4 separate regions of the Homo sapiens genome follow, and regions 1, 3 and 4 are each linked to region 2. The links come from fine-mapping of genetic effects on gene expression. A gene starts in region 2. Each other region holds a variant in brackets. All regions are shown on one strand. Distances are between the middles of the regions.

The links. PIP is the estimated chance that this variant, and not a neighbour inherited with it, causes the effect.
Region 1: its variant is fine-mapped to the expression of FCRLB in lung (TOPMed, PIP 0.94).
Region 3: its variant is fine-mapped to the expression of FCRLB in tibial artery (GTEx, PIP 0.94).
Region 4: its variant is fine-mapped to the expression of FCRLB in whole blood (TOPMed, PIP above 0.99).

The regions. Positions count from the first base shown.
Region 1 is chr1:161,538,590-161,543,730 of GRCh38, reverse strand. FCGR3A (Fc gamma receptor IIIa) reads left to right here. Exons shown (of 5, transcript NM_000569.8): 5 at 532-1,972. The coding sequence ends at 719. It overlaps TRN-GTT1-1 (tRNA-Asn (anticodon GTT) 1-1), which reads right to left and starts at 3,490; the gene lies at 3,417-3,490. RefSeq lists a silencer at 3,285-3,514. The variant G/C (reference allele first, on the strand shown) is at 3,005.
Region 2 is chr1:161,718,815-161,723,967 of GRCh38, reverse strand. It overlaps FCRLB (Fc receptor like B), which reads right to left and starts at 2,424. Exons shown (of 8, transcript NM_001002901.4): 1 at 2,307-2,424; 2 at 2,118-2,213; 3 at 1,265-1,315; 4 at 959-979; 5 at 347-601. The coding sequence starts at 1,295. RefSeq lists enhancers at 1,363-1,462, 1,543-1,642 and a silencer at 5,022-5,071.
Region 3 is chr1:161,640,185-161,645,337 of GRCh38, reverse strand. No RefSeq gene overlaps it. Among named protein-coding and RNA genes, the nearest start is that of FCGR3B, 12 kb to the right of the region's middle. The variant G/A (reference allele first, on the strand shown) is at 2,788.
Region 4 is chr1:161,676,850-161,681,997 of GRCh38, reverse strand. FCGR2B (Fc gamma receptor IIb) reads right to left here. Exons shown (of 8, transcript NM_001394477.1): 7 at 4,633-4,670; 8 at 3,344-4,522. The coding sequence ends at 4,445. Among named protein-coding and RNA genes, the nearest start is that of FCGR2B, 16 kb to the right of the region's middle. The variant G/A (reference allele first, on the strand shown) is at 3,246.

The DNA.
Region 1 (5,141 bases), 180 kb after region 2:
GACACTTTAAACTGAAAGTAAATACTCCCAAGTGGTTAGGGAAAGAGAGCAAATAAAGCAAATGGGGTAACATGTAAACAATGAGTGGATCTGGGTAAAGGATATACGAGATTAAACTATTCTGGTCATTTTTTTTTTAAGTTTGGAAATATATCAAAATCAAGAGTTTAAAAAATTGAAATGCAAAATCAACAAATTTGTCCCAGTTTCTAGACCATAGCATTGTCTGACAATTTCTTAACTGTCACACAAAACCCAGCTTACAACCTAACTTGTTAACGCTCCCTGTCACATCTCTGTCAAACAAGCAGGAGCCTTTGCTCAGTGTTTGGTGAGCTGTCCTCTGCTCAGATAGCACTAAGATCAGGAACCAATGGGAGGAAGCAATACTTTCCCCCAGACTTCCCCACCATTCCTACCACTTGCCTGTTGGCTGTTGTCAAAGACTTTCTACTGGTGACCTCACTGTTTGTTCCAAATATCTGCCTTAGTGACTGTCATTTTTTTTCATCTCTCCACTTCTCCTAATAGGTTTGGCAGTGTCAACCATCTCATCATTCTTTCCACCTGGGTACCAAGTCTCTTTCTGCTTGGTGATGGTACTCCTTTTTGCAGTGGACACAGGACTATATTTCTCTGTGAAGACAAACATTCGAAGCTCAACAAGAGACTGGAAGGACCATAAATTTAAATGGAGAAAGGACCCTCAAGACAAATGACCCCCATCCCATGGGGGTAATAAGAGCAGTAGCAGCAGCATCTCTGAACATTTCTCTGGATTTGCAACCCCATCATCCTCAGGCCTCTCTACAAGCAGCAGGAAACATAGAACTCAGAGCCAGATCCCTTATCCAACTCTCGACTTTTCCTTGGTCTCCAGTGGAAGGGAAAAGCCCATGATCTTCAAGCAGGGAAGCCCCAGTGAGTAGCTGCATTCCTAGAAATTGAAGTTTCAGAGCTACACAAACACTTTTTCTGTCCCAACCGTTCCCTCACAGCAAAGCAACAATACAGGCTAGGGATGGTAATCCTTTAAACATACAAAAATTGCTCGTGTTATAAATTACCCAGTTTAGAGGGGAAAAAAAAACAATTATTCCTAAATAAATGGATAAGTAGAATTAATGGTTGAGGCAGGACCATACAGAGTGTGGGAACTGCTGGGGATCTAGGGAATTCAGTGGGACCAATGAAAGCATGGCTGAGAAATAGCAGGTAGTCCAGGATAGTCTAAGGGAGGTGTTCCCATCTGAGCCCAGAGATAAGGGTGTCTTCCTAGAACATTAGCCGTAGTGGAATTAACAGGAAATCATGAGGGTGACGTAGAATTGAGTCTTCCAGGGGACTCTATCAGAACTGGACCATCTCCAAGTATATAACGATGAGTCCTCTTAATGCTAGGAGTAGAAAATGGTCCTAGGAAGGGGACTGAGGATTGCGGTGGGGGGTGGGGTGGAAAAGAAAGTACAGAACAAACCCTGTGTCACTGTCCCAAGTTGCTAAGTGAACAGAACTATCTCAGCATCAGAATGAGAAAGCCTGAGAAGAAAGAACCAACCACAAGCACACAGGAAGGAAAGCGCAGGAGGTGAAAATGCTTTCTTGGCCAGGGTAGTAAGAATTAGAGGTTAATGCAGGGACTGTAAAACCACCTTTTCTGCTTCAATATCTAATTCCTGTGTAGCTTTGTTCATTGCATTTATTAAACAAATGTTGTATAACCAATACTAAATGTACTACTGAGCTTCGCTGAGTTAAGTTATGAAACTTTCAAATCCTTCATCATGTCAGTTCCAATGAGGTGGGGATGGAGAAGACAATTGTTGCTTATGAAAGAAAGCTTTAGCTGTCTCTGTTTTGTAAGCTTTAAGCGCAACATTTCTTGGTTCCAATAAAGCATTTTACAAGATCTTGCATGCTACTCTTAGATAGAAGATGGGAAAACCATGGTAATAAAATATGAATGATAAAATTCTTTCTTCTTCCCTTTGTCCAACATTGTAACAGAGATTGGTTTGGATTGGTAAGAAACACCCCCTCCTCCCAGCAACCATCTCACCACAACTCATATAAATTAGCCAGCTTGCTTTCCAAATCTTGCTGAGACAATTGGGCTAAGGAGGATTCTTATGGGAAGTATGGGATAGGAGGGTGAATAAGCATTAGAGATCGTTTTAGAGCATTGGGGCAGATAGGAGAAGGCACAGCTACACAGGAGGTAGAGGCCTGGGCAGAGGTAGAGGGTCAGCCTGATTGTATGAATTATGAGCTATATACCAAGACGATTCAAGCTAGATTGCATACATAAATATTACATAAGATTCCGACACGACACAGGTGCATTTGGAAACCTTGGACATTCAACTCACATTTATTTACTACCTACAATGTGCAAGCTTGAGTTCAGGTGCTGAAGATACCAGATGAACAACACAGGGTCATTCCCTGGAGAAGCTTTATTTCTAGTGAGAAAAACAGTTAAATAGGAAGAGAATGAAGAAAGGGCTGCAGAAAAGAGGCTTGATTTGGGGGGTGTGGTCATGAAGGATGAGTAGGAGTTCGCCAGGCAAAGAAGAGAAGAAAAGCCCAAGGTTCATAGGCAAAGATTCAAAAACCAGAGTGTGAGTTCAAGAAAGCAGTTTGGTTCTGTGTCGGTGAGGGAGAGGAAAGAGTTTCAGGGCCAGATCATGAAGGGCATTACCTTCCAAACTAAGGAGATCGTATCAGACCCTGCAATACATTGAGAGAGTTTAAGCAGACCAGGTTTGTACCGTATAGTATTTTAGAAGGATTCTCTCGCAACTACTTGATGGATGGACGGGACAGGAGAGTTGAAGACCAGAAGCCAAATAGGGCAGCAAGGCAGGATGCAGTAACCCAAAGGGAGCAATGAGGAAGTAACTGGCGGTGAGGCTGGAGAGGAAGGTGCTTAATCAACAAGGTATTTAGGAGGCCGACTCTCCAAGAATTGGCAGCCAGCAGTACACGGCGTGACTAAGGACCA[G/C]GTTCCACACATAGTGCCCGTTTTCTGAGTTAGGAAATAGAAAGGCAAGGCAGGTACAGGTTTGGTGGAAAGACAAACAATTCGTTTTGGTATTATTAGTACTTACTTCCTTTGGTCAGTAAATTTTCTTAAAGTGTCAGTTTCCATAACGTAATTGCCGTGGTTAAGCAGCTAAGAGTTATCACTACAACCCTAGTCGGAAAAACCAAATACCTCAAAATTACCCGTACAGCACTAAGGCAGAAGAGGACATTGGGAACCACACAACGCGGAGGTCTGCTACCAGAGCTCCCTGCGGTTAGCACCGCGGCTGGTTTTGAGCGCCAAGGCCCCAGCGCTCCCAGCGGATAGCATCGCACGCAGTTTTTTCAGTCAAAGTTTCAAAAACCCAGGGTTCACAAAATGCGACTTCCGTCCCTGGGTGGGATCGAACCACCAACCTTTCGGTTAACAGCCGAACGCGCTAACCGATTGCGCCACAGAGACGGGCGTTGGCGATTTTGGCTGCCAAGTCACTTCACTGAAGAAAAAATGCTCAGCACTCACGTCTCCAAAAAAATTGAGGTTGATTTGAAACCAGTGACACAATTAGCTTTCCGTGCTTCAGGGCGCGGCTCATAGCCCTGAGCGAGGCAGGTCTTTTTTCTGCGCTAGCACTTGCCTAGATCTGGAGCAGGACTCAGCTTCCAGCAGAAGAGGTTGAGAAAAGGAGAGCAGAAGAGAATGCAGGAACGAAGGGTCTTCGGGGAATCCAAAATGGATGCTCTCTGTGGGTTCGGGGGTTCCGTTGATTTTGGTCAGAGAAGTACGACGATAAGCTTTTTTTGCTGATGTAGACAACTTATGTATGCATGTGCACACGTTTAGTGCTGACTCATAATAAGCTTATTATCGTGAGCATTAAAAATATTTTCTTTCAGGTCCAATCACGTCCAGCAAAATGTGATGTCTAAGTAAGTGAGTTTTGTGTTACAAAATTAGTCTTCAACCCACGCTGTTTTGAAAGGTTTCTACCGGCATATTAGACATGCAGACAGAACACGGAGCTTAAAAAGCCTGTAACATTCCAATTAATGGTATTCAGCTTGGAAATAAAAAATATTTTTTAAAAAATGCGTGCAACTTAAGGACTTTCATGCTGACATATCCAGATCCAAATATCTGAGGACAGAGACCCCTAATTCCACCACCATCGACCTAGGGAACCTCGTCAGTGCTGGGTCTAAAAAGGCTTTTTTTTTTTCTTTAATTCATATGTATATATACTTTATTCATATATATATATACTTTAAGTTCTAGGCTACATGTGCACAAGGTGCAGGTTCGTTACATATACATGTGCCATGTTGGTGTGCTGCACCCATTAACTCGTCATCTACATTAGGTGTTTCTCCTAATGTTATCCCTCCCTCCTTCCCCCACCCACGACAGGTCCCGGTGTGTGATGTTCCCTACCATGCACACGTATGTTTATTGTGGAACTATTCACAATAGCAAAGACTTGGAACCAACCCAAATGTCCATCAATGATAGACTGGATTAAGAAAATGTGGCACATATACACTATGGAATACTATGCAGCCATAAAAAAGGATGAGTTCATGTCCTTTGTAGGGACATAGATGAAGCTGGAAACCATCAGTCTGAACAAACTATCACAAGGACAGAAAATCAGACACCGCATGTTCTCACTCATAGGTGGGAATTGAACAATAAGAACACTTGGACGAAAGCCATTTTCTATATTGCCCAAAAACCAGGGTCTCTCCATAGCCTCCACACAGAATCTCCTTTCTTTCTGCCCTGCCATCCTCTGTCATCAGTGGGCTCCAGTTTAGGAGCAGGTGGAAGTTTTCAATGATGTTCAGTGAAATGAGAAGACATGCAAACATAGATATGTATATGCAGAAATTATATATGCATATATGTTTATATGTACACAGTATCATATGTATAATAAATAAGTAAATAAATAAATAAATTTGCCAAATGATCTTTAAACTAGAGTCATTTATTTTTTTTATTAATTTTTTTTTTTGAGATGGAGTCTTGCTCTGTCGCCCAGGCTGGAGTGCAGTGGCGCAATCTTGGCTCACTGCAACCTCCACCTCCCACATTCAAGCAATTCTCCTGTCTC
Region 2 (5,153 bases):
ATTTCCTTTACTGCTCCCTCCCCAACCCCCTAAAGTTCTCTGTCCAGCACTCCAGGTCCTTGGAGCCTTTGCTCTTCTGAGCTGGTCTCAGAAACAAACAGAAATGTTCACACTGTGCCTCACACTATGGCAGGAGGGTAAGGGGACCTTGGGGGCTAGGCATGCCTTACTGCATCTCTCGCATAGTGCCGTGCAGGTCCCTACCTGCTCCAGAGACTTAAGATAGGCCCCAGTGTGGCCCTTGTTTCCTGCACCTTGGGATTGGCCCAGTGTTCCCTCCCACCAGAGGACTAGTATTGCCAGAGGAGACACGTGCTCCCCCTCCCCTCGTGCTCAGTCCACTCACCATTGGATACAGAGAGGTGGATGGGGTCACTGACGGGTGCTCCCCGTGTCTGGCATCGATACACCCCTGGTGTCTGCACCTCAATGCTCTTCTTGTGAGAGGGCAGAAGTAGGTGGCCCAAATACCAGAGAGTGCTGATGGGCTGGAGCTCCAGGAGCAGTGGGTGGTATCCATCACACTTCAAAGTTACCCGCTCCCCTTTGAAGATGGTGGTCCAAGGTGGATGTAGAGACAATATGGGCTTCTCCAGAGTAGCTGGGGTGGGGAGTGGGGTGAGAGGGGGCAGCATGCAAAGAGAATCAAGGTGAGGTGCCCAAAGAAACGACCTGAGTTTGGGAAATCTTAGGAAACCCCAGCTCGCAGGCCCCAGCCCATGTACTAACCCATCCCTGCAGGAGAGGAGATCACATTCATTGGGTTACAGACTACCAGTCCATCAGCCAGCACCCATTTCTAAATGCCTTCAAGCAAATTTAGTCCCAGGGGTTGACGAGAGTGGGAAGAGACACTATCCCAGCGCAGCCAAGAAGTGAGGAGTCTACTTGAAAAGGTCACTTAGGGGGTTGGAGTGGAAGCTGTAGAAAATTGGGATGAGAAATTTATAAGACTCACCAGCTTGCCCACTGCTTGGAACTGCAGAACAGGAAAGAAGGAAGAGGAAGGAGAAGGAGAATATTGGCGATGAGAGGAGAGAGACTCTTGACGACAAGAAAGGCTGAATGGTCCCAAAACCTGTTTTTCTTCTTCTGCCCCTGGTTTCCCAAGCTCTGAGAAAGCCCCTTCTTCTTCACCCCTCCAAAAAAAGATAATGAACCACTTGGAAACTGAGGATTGGATACCCACCCTCCTCTCCCCATACCTTGGTCCACCCTATTCTCCACCACCCAAAGCTCTTCTGCTGCCTCACTGTGGACTCACCCAGGAGCAGAAGGGCTGTCAGTGGCCACATGATGGATCTGACTGCAGCAGCTGCAGAAGGATGGAGATGCACTGGCATGAGATGGGGAACAGAGAGAAAGAATGTGGCCAGTGGATGCCACTGAGTACTAGGAGACATTGCTGCTTCTCCCACCCACTCCTAGTTCCTGAAGATAGCAGACCAGAACCAGTGGGAGACAGGCTGAATATCAGGTATCCCAAGTGCCAGGCACTGTCTCATCTACCGCATCTACAGCCACCTCACAGCTCAGGCCAGCCCTGACTACTGAAAGGAAGGCCTGCAGAACTTGTGCCCTCCACAGCACAAGAGAGCCCCATAGAACCCCAGGCTCCAGCAGATGACCCCGCCATCTTCAGGCTCCCATTGACATCCCACTCCCATCCCATCCCTTCTCCACCTTCCAGCCAGCCCTGCAAGGCTCAGCTGAGGAAGACACGGCCTCATGTCCTTAAGGACCTTTTTCCTGCTCACTCCTGATGACAGACATTGGCATGAGACCTAGAGAGGTCAGTGTTCGGTTGCCTGCCCCCAGAGCTCACATCCTGCCACAATGAGTAGACGAAAAGGCATGACTCACCAACCACCCTTCACATCCCTATCATCTAGTTCCCCAGTCAAGGATAGAAATGCAATGTGTTTCTTCTTCCTCCCTTCCTGAAATCTTGAGTTCTCATAAATTCTTAAATTCTTAAGAAGTTAGAAAACTCTTCTTTCCTACCCATCCCAATGAGCTCATCCTGTGGCACTTCCAATCACTTGTTCTTTTCTTCCTTCCTCCCACCCTTCCCTGCAACCCCTCCCCAGCCACGCCCCAGTTCCAGAACTCCTGACCTGCAGCAGAGAAGTCACTGCATCGGCCCCTCAGAAGCCTCTCAGATCTGACCTCGGGGCTCTACTTCTTGTGCTTTCTGAGCCATGTGACCGTACCTGAGCAATGAGGAGAACCTGAATTTTCATGTAAATACTTAATGAATTTTCCAGCCTGATAGTGTGTCTCCTTGGACTCTATCCTGTCCTTACCTGTGGTTGTTTAGAACCGGGGCACCTTGATCCCTTGGAAATCTGATGGGAAGGAGATCAATTATCAGGTACTGTCAACTCCCAGGAAGATAGTATCTTCCCCTCTTGCTGATGCCTGAAGTTCCACTCTGAGAGTCCCCTCATATTTTGCTTAATGGACTAGCCCCTTTTAAAAATGCAAATGCCTCTTAGGAAAATGTGACTGGTCATTTAAATTATGCTGGTCACTTCAGATCATGTTTTGAGTGCAGGTTTTGATAAAAGAGATAGAGTCCTGTAGATTTCAAACAAAGTAGGGACATATTTGACAATGTGCCCAAGAGTAGGGGAGGCAGAGAAGAACTAATTACTGGGAACAGGGATGATCACCTGCCTGCTTTAGGAGTGCCTGGGCTGACCAGCACTCTTGTGCTTCCCCTCCATCCTAATAATTCCTCGTCTCAGGGCCAGTGTGTGGCTTCCCACATGATCCACAGCCTGCCACAGAGGTCTGACTTCTGCACCAAGCCACCACCTCAATGGTAAGAATGCAATGCAGTTGTCAGCTGTCCTCTTAGGCAACACAAGCTGGCTCTATTTTGGCTTCTCATCCCCCAGAGCACAGATCTCAGCCCCTTTACTCGATTCAGAAGAAACCTTAGTACACCAAAACTTTGTGAACTGTATAGTCGTCCCTAGAAACCTCTGGAACCATCCATACTGTTCATATTATACAGTGCTCAGAATTTGACTTGAAAAATTTCCCACGAAATATTTATTTATTCTAGGCTCTCCTCTAAGTTTTTCCCAAAGTGAGTCTTTTTACTCCATCTAGGACTTTTCCCCAGAATTTCTAATTCTTCACTCCTTTACAATGCAGAAAAATTTAGAAATTATCATTTGTAACTTGAGCAATTATTTGAGGCCTATCACAACATAACATCTGGACAATATATGTCACCATTTGATAAGCATTCTGGTGATAAAGTGTTCTCAGTGATAATTACAGTAATGAACTAATGCTGTTGTTGCTGATGACAGCTCACTTTAGTGTCTCGGCATGTGGCAGGCACTATGCTAAGTGCTTCACAGATATTACTGCACTTAATTCTTGTAAGGCCCTTTGAGGAAGAATTATTAATATCCCAATTTTGCATATGAGGAAACTGAGATGATGAAACTGGGATTTGAATAGAAGTCTGTCTCCAAAATCTGTTCTCTTATCTCTCTGATTGTCAGGGATTCAAGATGCTGCTCATGGCCGGCTGTCATTATTGGTCTTTGCAAGTTCCCCCTCTTATTGTCTTACCTTGTTGACTTTCACCCACATTATTGTCCTCCTCCCCTCCACATAAGCACCCACTGTAAAATGTTTACTGTGTGTTCCCATATACATGCTATTTTTTTTTGTGCTTTAAGTTCTAGGGTACATGTGCACAACGTGCAGGTTTGTTACATATGTATACATGTGCCATGTTGGTGTGCTGCACCCATTAACTCGTCATTTACATTAGGTATAACATGCAGTTTTTAGCTTTGAGAAATATTTAGTGTTGTTAATTTACATAAGTGGCATTGTGTTCTAGATATTATATTCACTTCTACTTTTAAAAATTAATCCCAGATGTTTCAAATTTGTTCAGATTGCTCTACATGCATCATGTTTATTGCTTTTGACTGCCCTAATATTCTTTTTTTTTGAGACGCAGTTTTGCTCTTATTACCCAGTCTGGCATGCAATGGCATGATATCAGCTCACTGCAACCTCCACCTCCTGGGTTCAAGCAGTTCTCCTGCCTCAGCCTCCTGAGTAGCTGGGATTACAGGCGTGCATCACCACGCCTGGCTAATTTTGTGTTTTTAGCAGAGATGGGGTTTCACCATGTTGGCCAGGCTGGTCTTGGACTCCTGACCTCAGGTGATCCACCCACCTCAGCCTCCCAAAGTGCTGGGATTACAGGCATGAGCCACTGCGCCCAGCCATGACTGCCCTAATATTCTATGCTTCTGCTACACTGCACTTGTCCATTCCCCTAACATCCTAGTTGCTGCCCACCCTCAGCTACCACAGACAATTCCACAATGGACTTCTTGGTACATATTGTGAGGGCTGGATGAATTAACATATGTAAAGGGCTTAGAACAGGGGTTGGCACATAGGAAGTTTCATGTAAGTTAGTACTGGTAAGGACATGATGCTTCCCTACAGAGCCCTGAAGCGCCTTTATGGGATACACACCTGAGAGCAAGACTGCAGAATTATGTTCATGAGTTACATGCACACTCATTCCAAAACTCAAATCTAATTCATCAGCAAGTCCTGATGACTCTACCTGCTACATTGATCTTTTTGTACAGTAATTTATTCACTGAGTCGCTAGAGAGATACTTTTAAAATGTTAACCATATTGTGTTACTTTCTCTCAAAATTCCCCATAGGTACCCTCAGAATAAGTTCCAAACACCTTCCCATGGTCTACAGGGCCCTACAAATCGGGCCTTTCTCTGACCCTTGGCCTCATTTCCTACAACTCTCCCCCTCACTCACTCTGATCTAGCCACATTGTGTTTAGAACAGTTGCTGGAACATTCCATGCTTAGTCTTGCTCCAGGGCCTCACTTGCTGTTCTTTCTGCCTGAAAGATTCTTATTCTCCTCCCAGATTTTTGTAAGTTTCACTTCCTCACTTCACTCAAATATTACTTCCTCAGAGAGATGGTCGCTAACCGTGCTATCTAAAATAGTATCTCCTCACTGTCATTTGCTGGCTCCATATTTTGCTTTATTTCTCTTCAATGTACTTGTCACCACCCGGAATTGTATTTGTTTGTTTGTGGTAGGTTCCCCCATTAGAATGTAAGCTCCATT
Region 3 (5,153 bases), 79 kb after region 2:
TTTCGGAATGATACAAAACTAAAACCAACCAAAAACAAACTACTAACTGCAAACTGGAAAAAAAAATGTGTAAAAATTCATGTCTCCCTGCAAAGGGGTATTTTTATTACATAAGAAATTAATGAGAAGAACATAGAGTTTTGATAAATAGGCAAAGGCAGGGATATCAATAGAGAAACCCAAAAACATTTAGTTAAACAAAAAATAAATATCCAAGAGGGCCAGACATGGTGCTAAGTGCTTTCCATCTAATAGCAACATGAAAGAGGAAATGCAACTGGTTGACAGACACATGGTAAATGTTGACTCCACACTAGTAATCAAATAAATGCAAATAAAAATTATGAGACCCCATTTCTCAGCTATGAAATTGCCCACAATTAAGAAAAAAGGACGTGATTAAATGAACTTGCATATATTTCTGAATAGGGTAGAAATTAAAACAATTGTTTTGGAAAGAGATTTGGAAAAACTATCAAAACCTTGGAAATTCATATACTTATGACATTGTAATTTTGCTTCTGGGAAAATGACCTTTGGAAATATCCCAAAATATACAAAAGCATTGTTACTCTTTGCAGAGCTACTGAATGATAATGAAAATTAGAAACAACCTAAAATATCCAAAATCATGCTTAAAGTAAATTGCTCTGCTGCTACATCAGCTGGAGTCTCTCTGAGCACTGAGAGAGAAGGGTATGAATGAATCAGTTAGGTGGCTTTCTGAAGCAAGTACAGAAAATTCTGCTCAAATGGCTTAAATAATAATAAATGTTTTACTATCTCACATATTAAGTTTCTTGAAGTTAGGGCAGCTCCAGAGCTGTTTAATCTACAATAATGTCATCAGTAACCCAGATTCTTCCCTCTCTTTGCTTTGCTACTCTCAGCATGTCAGCCAGTCTTCTCTGGAAGCAAGTTGGCTGCCGTAGTAGCTCCCAGCATCACATCTTTAAGCATCACCATGTCCAAAGACTGAGAAAGAACTCGTTACTTCCTGAGTCCCAGAATCCCTCTAGCAGATTATCCCTGAGGATTAATTGTCCAGAACTGTATCATATGCTTAGTCCTAAGCATGGCAAGACAATAGAACACCATAATTGGCTTAGAGCAGCAGTTCTCAAAGTGTGGTCCTTGTACCAAGATCAGCATTACCTGGAAACTTATTAGAAATGCACATTCTCAAGCCCCACCAGAATCAGAAACTCGGAGGGTAGAGTAGAGCTCACCAAGTTGTGTTTTTAACAAGCCCTCCAAATGGCTCTGATGTAGCTCAAATTTGAGAACCACTGGTTTAGACTAACCGAAAGTTCACACACTGAGGCTGGAAAAGGTCTAGGCTTCTCTACAGCTCATGACCACAACATTGCTAAACGAAATCAAGTTCCGTTAGCAAAGAAGAAGGGAAGAAATGGCTGTGCAGTAGGCAACTGCCCATACAGGATAAAGTTCCTGTTTTGGTGGCCAAAATGACCCAAATCTTTTAAAAAAAAAAGAAAGTCAAAGTAATACCATTTCTTCCTTTCCACACACCCTCAAATACATTTTTTAAGCATTTCTCCTCCCATTTAATGTGAAATGTGAAAGATGTTGAGTGGAGTTTGCAGTTGTTCGAGACCAGCTGGCCAACATGGTGAAACAACATGGTGTTTATGTATATGTGGAATCATTATAAAAAAGGAAGTTGCAGAAGAATATGCATTATGTAATATGCTAACAATAACTACAGAAATGAGCAAAATATAAATACATAAAGGTGGATGTGTGCTTATATGAATATAAGTGTATGGGGAAAGTTCTGGAAAGATATACTACAAGCTTCTAAGGGGTTACCTCTGAGGAAGGGAGTGAAATTGGGGGAGGGAGTCATTAAATCTCACTGTTACTTTTATTTTATTTACGTCCGAATTGTTTCACTTATTTGCAACAAGAACATATATAGATCACGCGTGTATTTTCAAACCAAAAAGTGCTTAAAGCCACAATAACAAAATATTGGTGAAAGGGACAAGGACTGAGTCTCTAGGGATGGTTCTGAGCTCTGCTCATACTCCCAATGATGTTGCCAACCTTTCTCTCTTCTCCAGTGGGATGGCACGGATTAAAAACAGAACAACACAAAACAGTATTTCCACTTCTTTTTCAAAAACTTTTTCAAAAACTAAGTTTTCTTTTTGGTGTTACCTTGTATTGTTCTGGTAGATTCTGAAGATTTTGCACATGAGCAGAAGCATGAATTTAGTTTTTATAATTAACTTTTAACTCTTAGAAGTATAATTTGCTAGCTCTGCTAGAAAATCCTTTTGGCTCCCAAAAGCTGCCTTCATTAGGATTTTTAGAAGACAAAGGCTACTACATTCTGCAATATCTAGAAACTACCACTGGAAGGCAACATTCAGAATTAGAGAATATTTAAGATGGAAAGAGTTAGATATAATCTAGCCCAATTACCTCACTTTGCTATGAGGAAACAAGTTTAGGGAAGAGAAGTGGCTTGACAACTGACCCCTGTTAGACTGAAACCAAAACTGAGATTTCCTTCCTCCTTGACCAGTATCCTTCCCATAACACATCGCCATCACTCTCTTTTTGAAACTTTAAAAACTTGCAAGTCTGGGAGGCATCTAAGCATGTTCTGATGTGAGATAGCACAAGGCAGGGCATTTAAAACTCACTCTTGGCTATAGCATAAAATTTTGGAAAGTTCTTGTATGTCAGCAGGTCATATTATTTTAATAACCACAGCCAACGCCAACAGGTGCAGCTTAAGGTCATCCCACAAAATCT[G/A]CTTCAATCCCATGTGCTTTTTTTCCCTTGTTGTCTGTCTATCTCTTCCTGGTTTTGTGAAAGTGTTCTCTCCTTGTCCCATGACTGCCTTTGTATGATGTATCTCGAGGTGTGTCTGTTTCCAGATCTCTCAGTAGATGCCTTGCTCTTCATGCATTTTCCATCTATTTTTAAGACACCATATTTGTAAACCTGGGTGTCTCTCTCAGTTTTTTGTGGGGTTTTGTTTTGTTTTGTTTTTTACTGTCCCAGTAACTGTGTCTTTCTGAGTTTTCTCTCACTGGTTTTCCTCTAAGTCCCATCCCATTTTGTGTCTTTATGTCTCTAACTCTGCCTGTTCTCCTCCCTTTTCTTTTATATTGACAGTTTCCTTTCCTATTTCTTTTCTTCACTTTACTAGACACATAATGGTGAATATTTTGTTTTGTTTTGTTTTGAGACGGGGTATCGCTCTGTTGCCCAGGCTGGAGTGCAGTTGCACGATCACAGTTCACTGCAACCTCCACTTCCCAGGCTCAAGTGATCCTCCCGCCTCAGCCTCCCAAGTAGCTGGGACCACAGGCATGTAGCCCCAGGCCTGGCTTATTTTGAATTTTTTTAAGAGATGGGGTTTTGCCAGGTTGCCCAGACTGGTGTTGAACTCCTGGCCTCAAGCAATGCTCCTGCCTCAGCCTCCCAATGTGCTGGGATTACAGGTATGAGCCACCATGCTGGGACCATGAATATTTTTTATTAAATAATTTTGATATCTATTGTATTTAAAGCTCAGAGCTAACTATATTTTGTTATTAATATTAAAATAAGCAAGTAGAAGCCAGGCAGTAGTGCTGGCTACTCAGGAGGCTGAGGCAGAAGGACTGCTTGAGTCCAGGAGTTTTTTAACCCAGCCTGGCTGACACAGTGAGACCTCATCTCTAAAAAAGAAAGCAAGCAGAATATTTTCTTAAAAGGCAATTATATTCCTTCTTGGCCAGGCCCAGTGGCTCACACCTGTAATCCCAGCACTTTGGGAGGCCGAGATGGGTGGATCACCTGAGGTCAGGAGTTCGAGACCAGCCTGGCCAACATGGTGAAAACCCGTGTCTACTAAAAATACAAAAATTAGCTGGGCATGGGGGCATATGCCTGTAATCCCAGCTACTTGGGAGGCTGAGACAGGAGAATCGCTTGTACCCGGGAGGCAGAGATTGCAGTGAGCCGAGATCATGCCACTGCACTCCAGCCTTGGCGACAGAGTGAGGCTTTGTCTAAAAAAAAAAAAAAAAGGTATTTTTTGCCTCTCTGTTGGTACCAATTGTTAAATTCTTTGTGGACCACTGATGCTTACCAAAAAAAAAAAGTGGGGGCGTCATATTTCCTCTAGTTGACATTAAAACACAGTAATTTAGCCAGAGGAGATCTTAGCAAACATACAGTCCACACTCCACTTTCTCATTTCATGATTGTAGAGACTGAGATCTAGACAATTTAATTGGTGGTCACCCTGGGTGACATAGCTAGGTCTAGAGCTCCTGGTCTCCATGTCAGCATTTCTTTCTTCTTCATTAAATGTCAAGTTTCCTCCCCTGTTCATTATTAGCTCCTTCCAGAAAAAGAGTTTCTTATCCTTTTAGTAGGTACTCAGTAAATACCAAGGTATTCACTAGGATGCCTTTGGATGAAGGTAACAAGCCCTGACTTAAATTGGCTTAAACAGCAGGGAAATTTACTTGAAATTGTAAGAAATCTGGGTTGGTTGCGTTAGAAGCTCAGTGATGTCACCAAGACCATATTCTATCCCTCCACTCTGTCCTCCTTGATTTTTTGGCATTGACCTCAGACTGGCTGCCTTCAAAATCTTAGGTTTTGCCAGCAGAACCTAGGACAAAATGAGCCCTTGTTCATGTACAGTGGGAGAGAGAGATCATCTCTCCCAAACATGGCACTCCCCTCTACCAGATTGGCCCTATTTAGGACAAAGTTCCGTCTTCTCCCACTTAACCAATAAAAGCCAGGGGAATGCTACACCCTGAGTGGCTTAGATCAGTCAAGATCCACCTCTGCATATGAGGGTGATTCCTGAATAGAATCAAGGTTATATTAGAAGGGAGGGAGAGGGATGGATATCAGGCTAGTACATCATATTCTATTTGTTGAGTTAACTGAGCATAGCAATTGTTGAGTTGGAAAAAACTCAGAACCTACTGTGGATTCAAGTTCAAGAAATCATTCTTTCCTACATACAACAGCATTGCTCTGTAGCCCTGAGCTAAGAGAGCATCACGAAATACAGTCTTCTTGCTGTTTATAATCGTAAGCAAACTCTTGGACCTGGGAGGGGATGAATGGATAATGTCTGTCTGACTTGCTTCTTTCTAGTTAGTACC
Region 4 (5,148 bases), 42 kb after region 2:
CTTAATGTTTAAGCCAATTTGAATCACGATTTCCTGTTATTTCCAACTGAAGTCATCCTAACTGATAAAAGAAAGAAAACCCAAAACCTAGGAATGAGAGGAGGGACATAAACACAAACACACAACTTATTACCAAAAAATAGGGGAAAAGTGCGATGTACCACTGCATACCAATAAAATGGATGATTCCTAGGAAAGCAAAAGTTTTCAAAATTGACTCCCGAGAGAGAGAAAATCATAACCAGACCAAAAATGACAGAAAGAAAAGTCTGTCAAAGATCTGTCACAAAAAAATGTGCCAAGCTCATATGATATTATAGGAAAATTCTGTAAGTCTGAATGAATGAAGAGTTGTAACTTAGGAAGCCTCAATATGACACAGATGTCAAACCTTACCCAAATAATCTATAAATGCAATGCAATTCTACCAATATCATAATAGTGTTATGGAATTCTTAAGTACATCTGGAAGAGAAGCAGCACATTAGTAGCCAAGAAAACCTTGAAACAAAAGAATGAGAGAAAACTTGACCTTCTATATATCAAAGTACACTATAAAGTTGCAATAACTAAAAATGTGGTATTGATGCAGAAATAGACAAATAGAACAATGTAATAGAAGAGAGGCTAAAAATAGACCTATGAGTGGGAATTTAGGTGATAAATTAGGATTTCAAATTATTAAACTGTTCAACAAATGATATTGGAACAACTGACTTTCATATGGAAAAATTATATTAGGTTCTCACCTTACACCAAGTCCAAAAATAAGTTCCAAATATAGTAAAGATCTATTTAAAGCATTTAAGAGTTTTAGATAAATATAATATTATTTCATTCGTTAACTCATTCAATAAATAGTGATTGCATTGTTCTAGTCTCTGGAATACACCAGTGAATAATACAAACATCCTGCCCAGAGTGAGCTTACATTTTAGAACTTGTAAGTAAATATTTAAGCAAAAAAATGCATGATTACATACAGTGATAGATACCATGAAGGAAATAAGAGCAGAGGAATAGCAGTAGGGGAAGTGCAGTCAGGGATGTCCTTCCTGAAGAGGATATTTGAAAGAACTCATCAAACTCTACCGAGCATGCTCAAACAAAGTGCTTATTTAAAAGTATAGCAAGAGAAAGAAAGTCTAGGCAATTACTGGGAGTCCAAGAGATTCCATGTGCAAGCTCCCTAGCATCCTTATAGTTACCGTAACTTATTTACGCTTTTTGTCTGGATTAAACCACCGGGATCCATACAAGGAATCTTGGCTATGGGAGAGCTCAAAGCAGAAGTTCCTAGAGGGATTTTTATGCCCCCTCTGGCTACGTAATCATGCCAACTATCTAAATGGCTTATTGAAAAACTATCAGTAAAGAAACTGACCCTGGGGATCAGGAGTCAAGTTTCAGACTTTAGGTAGCATGTCAGGGCCAGGCACCGTGGCTCACACCTGTAATCCCACCACTTTGGGAGGCTAAGTGGGGAGGATCGCCTGAGGCTCACAGTTTGAGATCAGCCTAGACAACATAGCAAAACCCCGTCTCTACAAACTATTTTTTTTTTTTTTGAGACCGAGTCTCTCTCTGTTCCCCAGGCTGGAGTGCAATGGCATGATCTCGGCTCACTGCAACCTTCGCCTCCCAGGTTCAAGCAATTCTCGTGCCTCAGCTTCCCAAGTAGCTGGGACTAAACAGTCATGAGCCACCACACCCAGCTAATTTTTGTATTTTCAGCAGAGATGGAGCTTCACCGTTTTAGCCAGGCTGGTCTTGAACTCCTGACCTCAGGTGATCCACCCACCTTTGCCTCCCAAAGTGCTGGGATTACAGGCATGAGCCACCGCGCCCAGCCAAAAAGTTCTTTTTTTTTTTTTTTTTTTTGAGACGGAGTCTCTGTCGCCCAGGCTGGAGTGCAGTGGTGCAATCTTGGCTCACTACAAGCTCTGCCTCCCGGGTTCACGCCTTCTCCTGCCTCAGCCTCCCGAGTAGCTGGGATACAGGCACCCGCCACCAAGCCCAGCTAATTTTTTTTTTTTTGTATTTTTTTTAGTAGAGACGGGGTTCCACTGTGTTAGCCAGGATGGTCTCGATCTCCTGACATCATGATCCACCCGCCTCGGCCTCCCAAAGTGCTGGGATTACAGGCGTGAGCCACCATGCCCGGCCAAAAAATTCTTAAAAATTAGCCAGGTGTGGTAGTCCCAGCTACTAGGAAGGCTGAGGTGGGAAGACCACTTGAGCCCAGGAGTTTGAGGCTGCAATGAGCTGTGATCCTGCCACTGCACTCCAGCCTGGACTACAACCCTATCTCTTAAAAAAAAAAAAAAAAGAAAGAAAGAAAAGGGAAGAGGATAGAGGGAACTGATGACAAAATGGAACTTCTACTTTTTACTCCTTATCTTTCTGTATTATTTGGGCTTACATGCTTACAATGAGCATACATTTTTGCCTGAGTGTATTTATTAACATGTAAAATATATGATATGATCCAATTTTTTTTTTTTTTTGAGACAGAGTTTCACTCTTGTTGCCCAGGCTGAAGTGCAATGGTGCGATCTCAGCTCGCTGCAACCTCTGCTTCCCAGGTTCAAGCGATTCTCCTGTCTCAGCCTCTCGAGTAGCTGGGATTAGATCCAATTTTTAAAACACAAATACACACTGCCACAGACAGGAATATGGATTGATATCCTTAAATGTTAGCATTAATTATTTCTGGTTTATGGATTTATGGGCGATCTAATTTTTTTGTTTTCCCTATCTGTATCTTAATTTTATAAAAAGAATACATTATTAGTGTAGTGAAATAATTTACATATAAATAAAAGGAAATAAGTTACTACTATGCAATTTATAAATAAAGGGACATACATTGTATCTACAAAAATGGGCAAAGAATAAATACACAGGAAACTCACAAAAGAGGAAATATAAAAGGCTAATCGTAAATTCTCTAAATTCTAAAGCATATAGTTTGGCACAAACTATATGGCACAAAGTAAGTCCTTAATAACGCAGTAATTTTAATTATTATCCCTTATTACTAAAACAATAAGTGTGTATGAAATCTGATTGTGGGACCATAAAAAGTGAGTACTTTTTATCCTACCATAAAAAGTGCAACAAATGTTGCACGATGTTACTGCGTAGAGTCCCAGGAAAATGAAGCCTCTCCAAGGGCACTCACCAAACCCTCAAGGAGACTGCCAGTCATGTTTCTAATCTGCCTGAGATGACTTCTCTGAGAA[G/A]GTCACATCCTTCTGGTAACTACATTGGGAGAATAGCAGAGCAGGACATGTCAGCAATCTCCACTCAGGGCTCATCTGAAGTTTGACTTCCCGTGAACTTGTGTTGCAAAACAGTGTTTTATTTGCCATAGGAGGAAAGAGAAGAAGACATGGAAACAAGAATACAAGGTCATTGGCAGAAGAGTACAGTCATGCATTGTTGAAATATGGGGATACATTTTGAGAAATGCAGGCAATTTTGTTGTGTGAACATCATAGCAGGTACTTATACAAACCTAAATGGTGTGGCCTACTACACACCTAGGCTGTAGCGTATAGCCTATTGCCCCTAGGCTACAAACCTGTACAGCATGCTACTGTACTGAATACTTTAGGCAATTGTAACACAATGGTAAGTACTCATATATCTAAACATAGGAATAGAAAAGGTACAATAGAAATATGGTATTATAATTTTATGGGATCACCATCATATATGCAGTCTGTTGTTGAACTAAACATCATTATGTGGTGCGTGACTGTATTCAGTTTTAAGAAAAGGGGCACTCACTCTACATTCTAAATCCCCATCTCTCCTCTCCTCCCCCTATCCTATCCATTCCTGCCTTCCTAAGAGTCTCATCACTGAAGAGAAACAGACCCCAGGCAGTTCAGTCTACACTCCAACCAATACAGCCTTGAAAAGGTAAACAGAATGTTGTTTTTATAATGTTTTATTATAAAAGTAATATATGATCTTTATAGAAAAATAAAGAAAATAAAAATCATCAATAATTTTATCACCCAGAAACAATCACTTTTAATGTGCTGGTAGAGGTTAGTCTATTTTAACATTTCTGAAATCATATAGATTTACATGATTGTTCTCACGTAACCTGTAACATAAGCATTTCCCAAGTTGCTATTATCTGTTAATAACAGTGGTTTGATTAATTGGATTGGCTGTGTGGATGTGGAACGGAAGAGCCTTGATGTCAAGAAGAGCTGAAGCACAGAAGGTGCAGTCGGTTATTTGGGACCATATTGTCTGTGGCTTTCAGGACAGGGAGCTTCAGGACTCAGGTAGATGACTCTGGAAGAAACCTTCTCTTTTGGAACTGCAGCATCTCCCTGTCCTCCCCAAGGGGAATTTAGGCCAGGAAATACCAGATCTTCCCTCTCTGATTTTCTTCTCAAATCCCAATGCAAGACAATGGAGACTAAATACGGTTCTGGTCATCAGGCTCTTCCAGAGCATCCGGGTGCATGAGAAGTGAATAGGTGATTGTGTTCTCAGCCTAGAGAAGGCAGAAACCAGCAGTAAGGATCCACAGAGAGGGCCTAGGAAAGAAGGCAACAGAAAAGGCAACAGGGGAGAAGGGAGGGGGAGATGGCTGGGATCACTCACCCCAACTTTGTCAGCCTCATCAGGATTAGTGGGATTGGCTGTGGGAAAAAGAAGAAATATCAGCCAGAGCACTGCTGGAGAAGAGGGCCTGCCTGTGCTGATGCTGAGGCTGCAAAACCAACGCCCAAACTAGAGCCAAAGCAAGCACTGCTGACCCTGTCTTGGGCCTCTAGGCCAAGCACTGGGTAAATATGACCTCATTGATCGATGCATAGGGTAGCCCAGCCACAGCCTTCCGCAAAGGCCAAGGTGAAAAAGTGGAGCAGTCACTTGAGCTGCATTCTTTTCAGGGAATTGCTGAGCTTTCCTAGAAGCAAACCAGGGAGGCTTGGGATCTGAGATATTGGGGAAGAGGTGGGGGAGGGGGGTGTTCAGCATCAGAGTGAAGTAAAGTCCAGATTTTTGCTGGCCACAGACTTCAGGGAGAGAAGGCTGAGGGCCATTTCCACATTGTCTAAATGTAGTGCATCTTTGTTGGAACTTTGAAAAATATGGTACTCCATGGCATTAAAAAGA